Regions from separate parts of the Homo sapiens genome. Here region 1 is linked to region 2. Evidence: fine-mapped expression QTL. A gene starts in region 2. The other region holds a variant in brackets. All regions are shown on one strand. Distances are from middle to middle.

Region 1 (2,913 bases), 40 kb after region 2:
TTCCTTGACTATTTGTAAATTCCCACTCCAATAAGAAAATTTGGTCTAGCCATCTGCCAACTATTTACTTAATCGTTCAATGCCAATATACATGTATAGCTAGATTAGTATTGTTAGCCTCTGCTTTTGTGAGAAACAACTTTGTCAAGTAGAGACTAGTGCTTATATGAAGTTTCTTTTGCCTTTAGTTTTATAGATGCCCCTTATTTCCAAAGTTACTTAGGTTACACCTTTTCCTCCACCCAAGGTGGTCTCATATATTTGTAATATAGTTGGATTGTTTTATCATAATCTAGGATCCCCCAGCCTCCTGAGTAAGTGGTTTTTTTTAAAAATTTACATGTATTAAATTTCACTCTTTGATGCTGTGGGTTTTGACAAATGTGGGTTGTGAGCTTTGAGTCTTACCAGTTTTATAGAAAACCTTGGAATTTCTCACAGTGGCACTTGTCAGTATAAGCTGCGTGACTTGGATATGTCTATCATTTTGATTGTTTCAGACTGTCCTGGCTGGGCAAAGTGGGTCACACACGTAATCCCAGCACTTTGGGAGACCAAGGTGGGCGGATCACTTGAGGTCAGGAGTTTGAGACCAGCCTGGCCAACATGGTGAAACCCAGTCTCTACTAAAATACGAAAATTAGCTGGGTGTGGTGGTGTGTGCCTGTAGTCCCAGCTACTTGGGAGGCAGAGGTGAGAGAATCGCTTGAACCTGGAGGCAGAGGTTGCAGTGAGCAGAGATTGCACCATTGCACTCCAGCCTGGGCAACAGAGCGAGACTCCGTCTTAAAAAACAAAACAAAAACTTTCCCATCTTAAAATAAATGAGATTGTGTTTACTTTGCAGTAATTCATCAAGCTCTACTCTTAGGATGGTCACTTTTCTGTGTTACTTGGATTTTAAAATGCTTTAAAGAATTGAATGGTTTGGGCAAAATAGTTTAGGCTCTATCTTTAACTCTGAATCTATTTATCTTTCTAATTTTGAACTCCTTTTAATGTTTTTCTTCTGGGACTTACCACGATTAAAAGTTAGCATTTTTGTTTTGTTTTACTTTTTGGTTTTTCAGCTAGGCTTCTGACAGTATTGCACATTTACATAAAAGTGTAATTATGCCTTTGCTTAAGATTTGTTTTTATTTCAGTTAATTCGTCAGTGAAGAAAAATACATTTTATGCTCTACTCCCAACTAAGATGAACTGTCTTACAGATGGCTTTGTGCTTTTGGTCATAAGCAAGGCCATGTGAAAGTACGGTTCAGTGAAGTCTTTCAACACTGAACACCTCAAGAGTATACTTTGCAACCGTAAGTGAGTCATTAACATCCCTCGTCAGTAAGGTACTTTATGATCTTCATCAAAAAAGTACCGATATTGTTAAGGTGTCTACTAATGTGCCAGATGTACAAAGATAATATGGCTTAGTCTCTGCTCTCAAGTAGTGTACACTCTAATGGGGAAAAAAGGAAGTTAAAATGACATTTAGAAGTGGGTCATAGAGAGAGATGGTGAGAGAGAGATGGTGCTGTGTAAGTGAGCAGGCTTCCTGGTTGACACCTTTTGGGATTAGGAAGATTAAATGGTTCATAGTAAACTGAATGTTTTCAGAGCAGACCTATCTTGTTTAAGGGCCTTTAGCCATTACTTAGATGACATTTATGTAGCTCATCTCCATGTTTTATTAGTTGTTTGTTTAAATTATGTGAGTAATGAAAGGTGTAGTTGATTCTGGCTTACGTGTTTTAGATGACTTATAAATCCTAGA[AAAAACATCACC/C]TATCAGAATTAACTCAAGAATAATTTTTTTCTTTTTTTTTTTTTTTTTGAGACAGGGTTTGGTTCTGTTGCCCAGGTTGCAATACAGTGGTGTGATCTTGGCTCACTGCAACCTCTACCTCCTGGGCTCAAGTGATCCTCCCACTTCGGCCTCCTGAGTAGCTGAGACTACAAGTGTGCACCACCACACCCCACTAATTTTTGTATTTTTTGTAGAGATGGAGTTTGACCATGTTGCCCAGGCTGGTCTTGAACTCCTGAACTCAAGTGATCCACTTGCCTTGGCCTCCCAAAGTGCTGGGATTACAGGCATGAACTACTGCACCTGGCCTCAAGAAGAAATTTTAAAACTCGAGTAGTTGTATTAACAATAAAGAGGCTGGGCACGGTGGCTCATGCCTGTAATCCCAGCACTTTGGGAGGCCCAGGCAGATGGATCACCTGAGGTCGGGAGTTCGAGACCAGCCTGACCAACATGGAGAAACCCCGTCTTTGCGAAAAAATACAAAATTAGCCGGGCATGCTGGTGCATGCCTGTAATCCCAGCTACTTGGGAGGCTGAGGCAGGAGAATCGCTTGAACTCAGGAGGTGGAGGTTGCAGTGAGCCGAGATCGTGCCATTGCACTCCAGCCTGGGCAACAAGAGCGAAATTCCATCTCAAAACACACACAGACACACACAGACACACACACACACACACACACACACACACACACAAATTTGGGCACTGAAGTTCCATTTTACCTTTCTACCAAATAAAGCATTTTGCTGAATTTAAAACGTATGGTTCTCCATATGAAATTTTCGGCCAGGTGTGGTGGCTCACGCCTGTAATCCCAGCACTCTAGGAGACCGAGGTGGGCAGATCACCTGAGGTCAGGAGTTTGAGACCACCCTGGCCAGCATGGTGAAACCCTGTCTTTACTAAAAATACAAAAATTAGTTGGGCGTGGTGACGCATGCCTATAATCCCAGCTACTCTGGAGGCTGAGGTAGGAGAATCGCTCGAGTGAGTTCACTGCACTCCAGCCTAGGTGACAAAGCCAGACTCTCTCAAAAACAAAACAACAAAAAAAAGAAAGTATATTGATGGGTAGTTTGTGGAATACTTTATTTTTCCATTTTTAAATTTTTTC
Region 2 (2,913 bases):
GACACTCAAAAATGCTGGTTGAATGAACAAGGAGCCAACTGACACCTGTTACTCCCTATAAAATCTTTAACTTTCTTAAGCCAAAACTCAAGAAAGATGGTTGTCACATTAAGAACTCTACTAAATATCCTCTGAACGAACGAATCCTTCAAATTCTCAATTATGCTAAATGGAAAAACATAAACAACCGTTGAGAGAAATGCTGAACCAGCGGAAAAAACTTCAAAGCCAAGTTTCAACATTCCCGTAGAGCTAGATACACCCACTGACTGCTGCCAGGGTCAATTTCCCGGCCTCTTCCAGAGCTCATAAGCACCCCCAAAAAGCGCTTAGGAAAAAAAACCCAGCGCCTACTCTACCCTGGTACGCTCGACTCCTCGCACACGTAAACCTTTAAGGTGGATGTCAGTGCAGCCAGCATTGAACAGACGCGAACACGGGGAGACAAAAAAAGCATCTCCCCATATTCACAAGGGTCACCACAGACAAACTCTGAAAAGACCAAATTATTCACAAATCTAAGAGAATTGACAGATCCTCTTTGAGATAAACTATTTTCCTACAGTTTCTGGAGGCAAACAAAAACTCCAAAAACAAGTCGAACGGTCCATCTCCCCACTCCTCTCCCAAGAATGTGGCTGTTTTACATATCACACCCTGGACTCCGACAAGCGAACTCCTAGACCTTCCCGGGGCCTCGGATCGCTGAGTGGCAGAGGAGCTGCCCCGCAGAGCTTTCGGTTGCTTTGGCAGAGTCCCCGTGAGACCTGCCTGCCTGCCCACAAACTCTTCTTGGAGTAAAAGTGAAAGAGAAAAAAAACCCGACTCGTCCACCGTGACGGATGGTGGGGGATTTTAGCAGAGTTGAGTAGCCCAAAGAGGATTCAATTTCCCCCCGCCCTCGGCTGCCTCCTCCCGCTTTCCTGCGAAGCCGGACATGCCTCCTTGGTCCGCGCAAGCCCCACCACCACCCACATGGTGTGTCCGTCCCGGTCAGAGCACAAGAACTTTAAAATGGTGCCTCGGGCCACAAGGCTCATCGGAAAGAGTCACAGAGGCCCACGGCCAGCAAGTGGGCGCGGGGGGTCAGGAAAGGAGGCCCCGGGTGGCGGGTGGGGCGCCCCGGGTGACGCGCGCGTTAGTGGGCGGAGGGAGGCGCACCAGGCAAAGGAAAGGAGAGAAATGGATCGCGGCCCCTTTAAGAGGCCTTCACGGCGCTCAGGAACTGGGGGCCTCTCCACCACCCCCAGCCCGGCGTATGGGGCCCTTCCTTGGGGAGAACTATCTCCAGACCCGCTCCCCGGAGGCTCCCCTCACGCCAGGTCTCGCCCGGCCCTGCCATGGGACGGCGGCTCCTCCTTACCCCGCTGTCTGCCGCCTCTTCCCAGCTCTCAGCGACCTCCTCATCTTCCATCTTACTCGCCGCTTTCCCTCCTCCCCCACCCCCTCCCCGCGCCTGCGCTTTGAAGCGCGCCTCCGTCGCGGGCGCAGGCACGCAAGGCTTTACTCAATGGACCCCGCCCGCTGCCAAGCCCGGAAGAGGCGCCAGGCAAGGTCCCAAGTGTACATTAGGGCAGCCATCTTGGAAGGGGGCAGAGAAGGCGGAAAGATGCCATCTTTCTTAAGGGCCAACGCGTTATCTGTCTTACAGAATGGGCGTTCAAGGGAAGTCCTCATCTCGAGTACCGGAAGTGTGTTCTGTGGAACCATCTTTTCTAAGGGCAGGCAATTAAAGAAAACTTTTTTTCTTTTAAAGTGAGTCGTAGTTTTCCTAAACTACAGATAATGGTATCTTCAGAATTCTGAAAACATTTTTAAACACCAACAAATGATGAAAAATATCTGCTGATGCAGAAAACATTTTATTATTTCTGATAGGGTGAAAATCATTACAGTATTTCCTGCTCATAAAGCAGTATTCTAATCATTTATTAACACTATATCCGCTACCGTAAGGTAAAGACGGTAAAGATAATATTGCACCTCAGTTGGGAGAACCAGTGGGATTCCCAGCTACTAAGTTCTCCTGGGTCTTTAATGGTAGATAAATACGTTAGTATTACCTCTAAAAATTACTGGCCAGGCGCGGTGGCTCACGCCTGTAATCCCAGCACTTTGGGAGGCCGAGACAGGCGGATTACCTGAGGTCAGGAGTTCAAGACCAGCCTGGCCAACATGGTGAAACCCCGTCTCTACTACAAATACAAAAATTAGCTGGGCATGGTGGCACACGCCTATAATCCCAGCTACTCCGGAGGCTGAGGCAGGAGAACTGCTTGAGCCAGGGAGGTGGAGGTTGCAGTGAGCCGAGATCATGCCACTGCACTCCAGCCTGGCCGACAGAGTGAGGCTCTGTCTCAAAAAAAAAAAAAATTATTTATGTCAGGGCAGGCGTAGTGGCTCACACCTGTAATCCCACTTTGGGAGGCCAAGGTGGGCAGATCACCTGAGGTCAAGAGTTCGAGACCAGCCTGACCAACACGGAGAAACCCCGTCTCTACTTAAAATGCAAAATTAGCTGGGCATGGTGGCACATGCCTGTAATCCCACCTACTCGGGAGGCTGAGGCGGGAAGATCGCTTGAGCCTGGGAGGCGGAGGTTGCAGTGAGCCAAGATTGCGCCATTGCACTCCAGCCTGGACAACAAGAGCAAAACTCTATCTCAAAAAAAAGTTATTTATGTGGCCGGGCATGGTGGCTCACGCCTATAATCCCAGCACTTTGGAAGGGTGAGGCGGGGGGATCGCTTGAGCCCTGCAGTTTGAGACCAGCCTGGGCAACGAGGCAAAAGCCCATCTCTACTAAAAAAAAAAAAAAAAGCTGTGTGATCTTAACGCAAGTTACATAAGGATTCTATGTCTCAGTTCCCCAAGTGTATACATTAGAGATAGCTACTTCAAAAGTAGATTGTAA

The links. PIP is the estimated chance that this variant, and not a neighbour inherited with it, causes the effect.
Region 1: its variant is fine-mapped to the expression of SZRD1 in whole blood (INTERVAL, PIP above 0.99).

Annotation. Positions count from the first base shown.
Region 1 is chr1:16,325,596-16,328,508 of GRCh38, reverse strand. All of the region lies in intron 1 of FBXO42 (F-box protein 42), which reads left to right. Among named protein-coding and RNA genes, the nearest start is that of FBXO42, 25 kb to the left of the region's middle. The variant AAAAACATCACC/C (reference allele first, on the strand shown) is at 1,766.
Region 2 is chr1:16,365,759-16,368,671 of GRCh38, reverse strand. SZRD1 (SUZ RNA binding domain containing 1) reads right to left here and starts at 1,430. Exons shown (of 4, transcript NM_001114600.3): 1 at 1,364-1,430. The coding sequence starts at 1,414. RefSeq lists enhancers at 634-923, 1,674-1,733.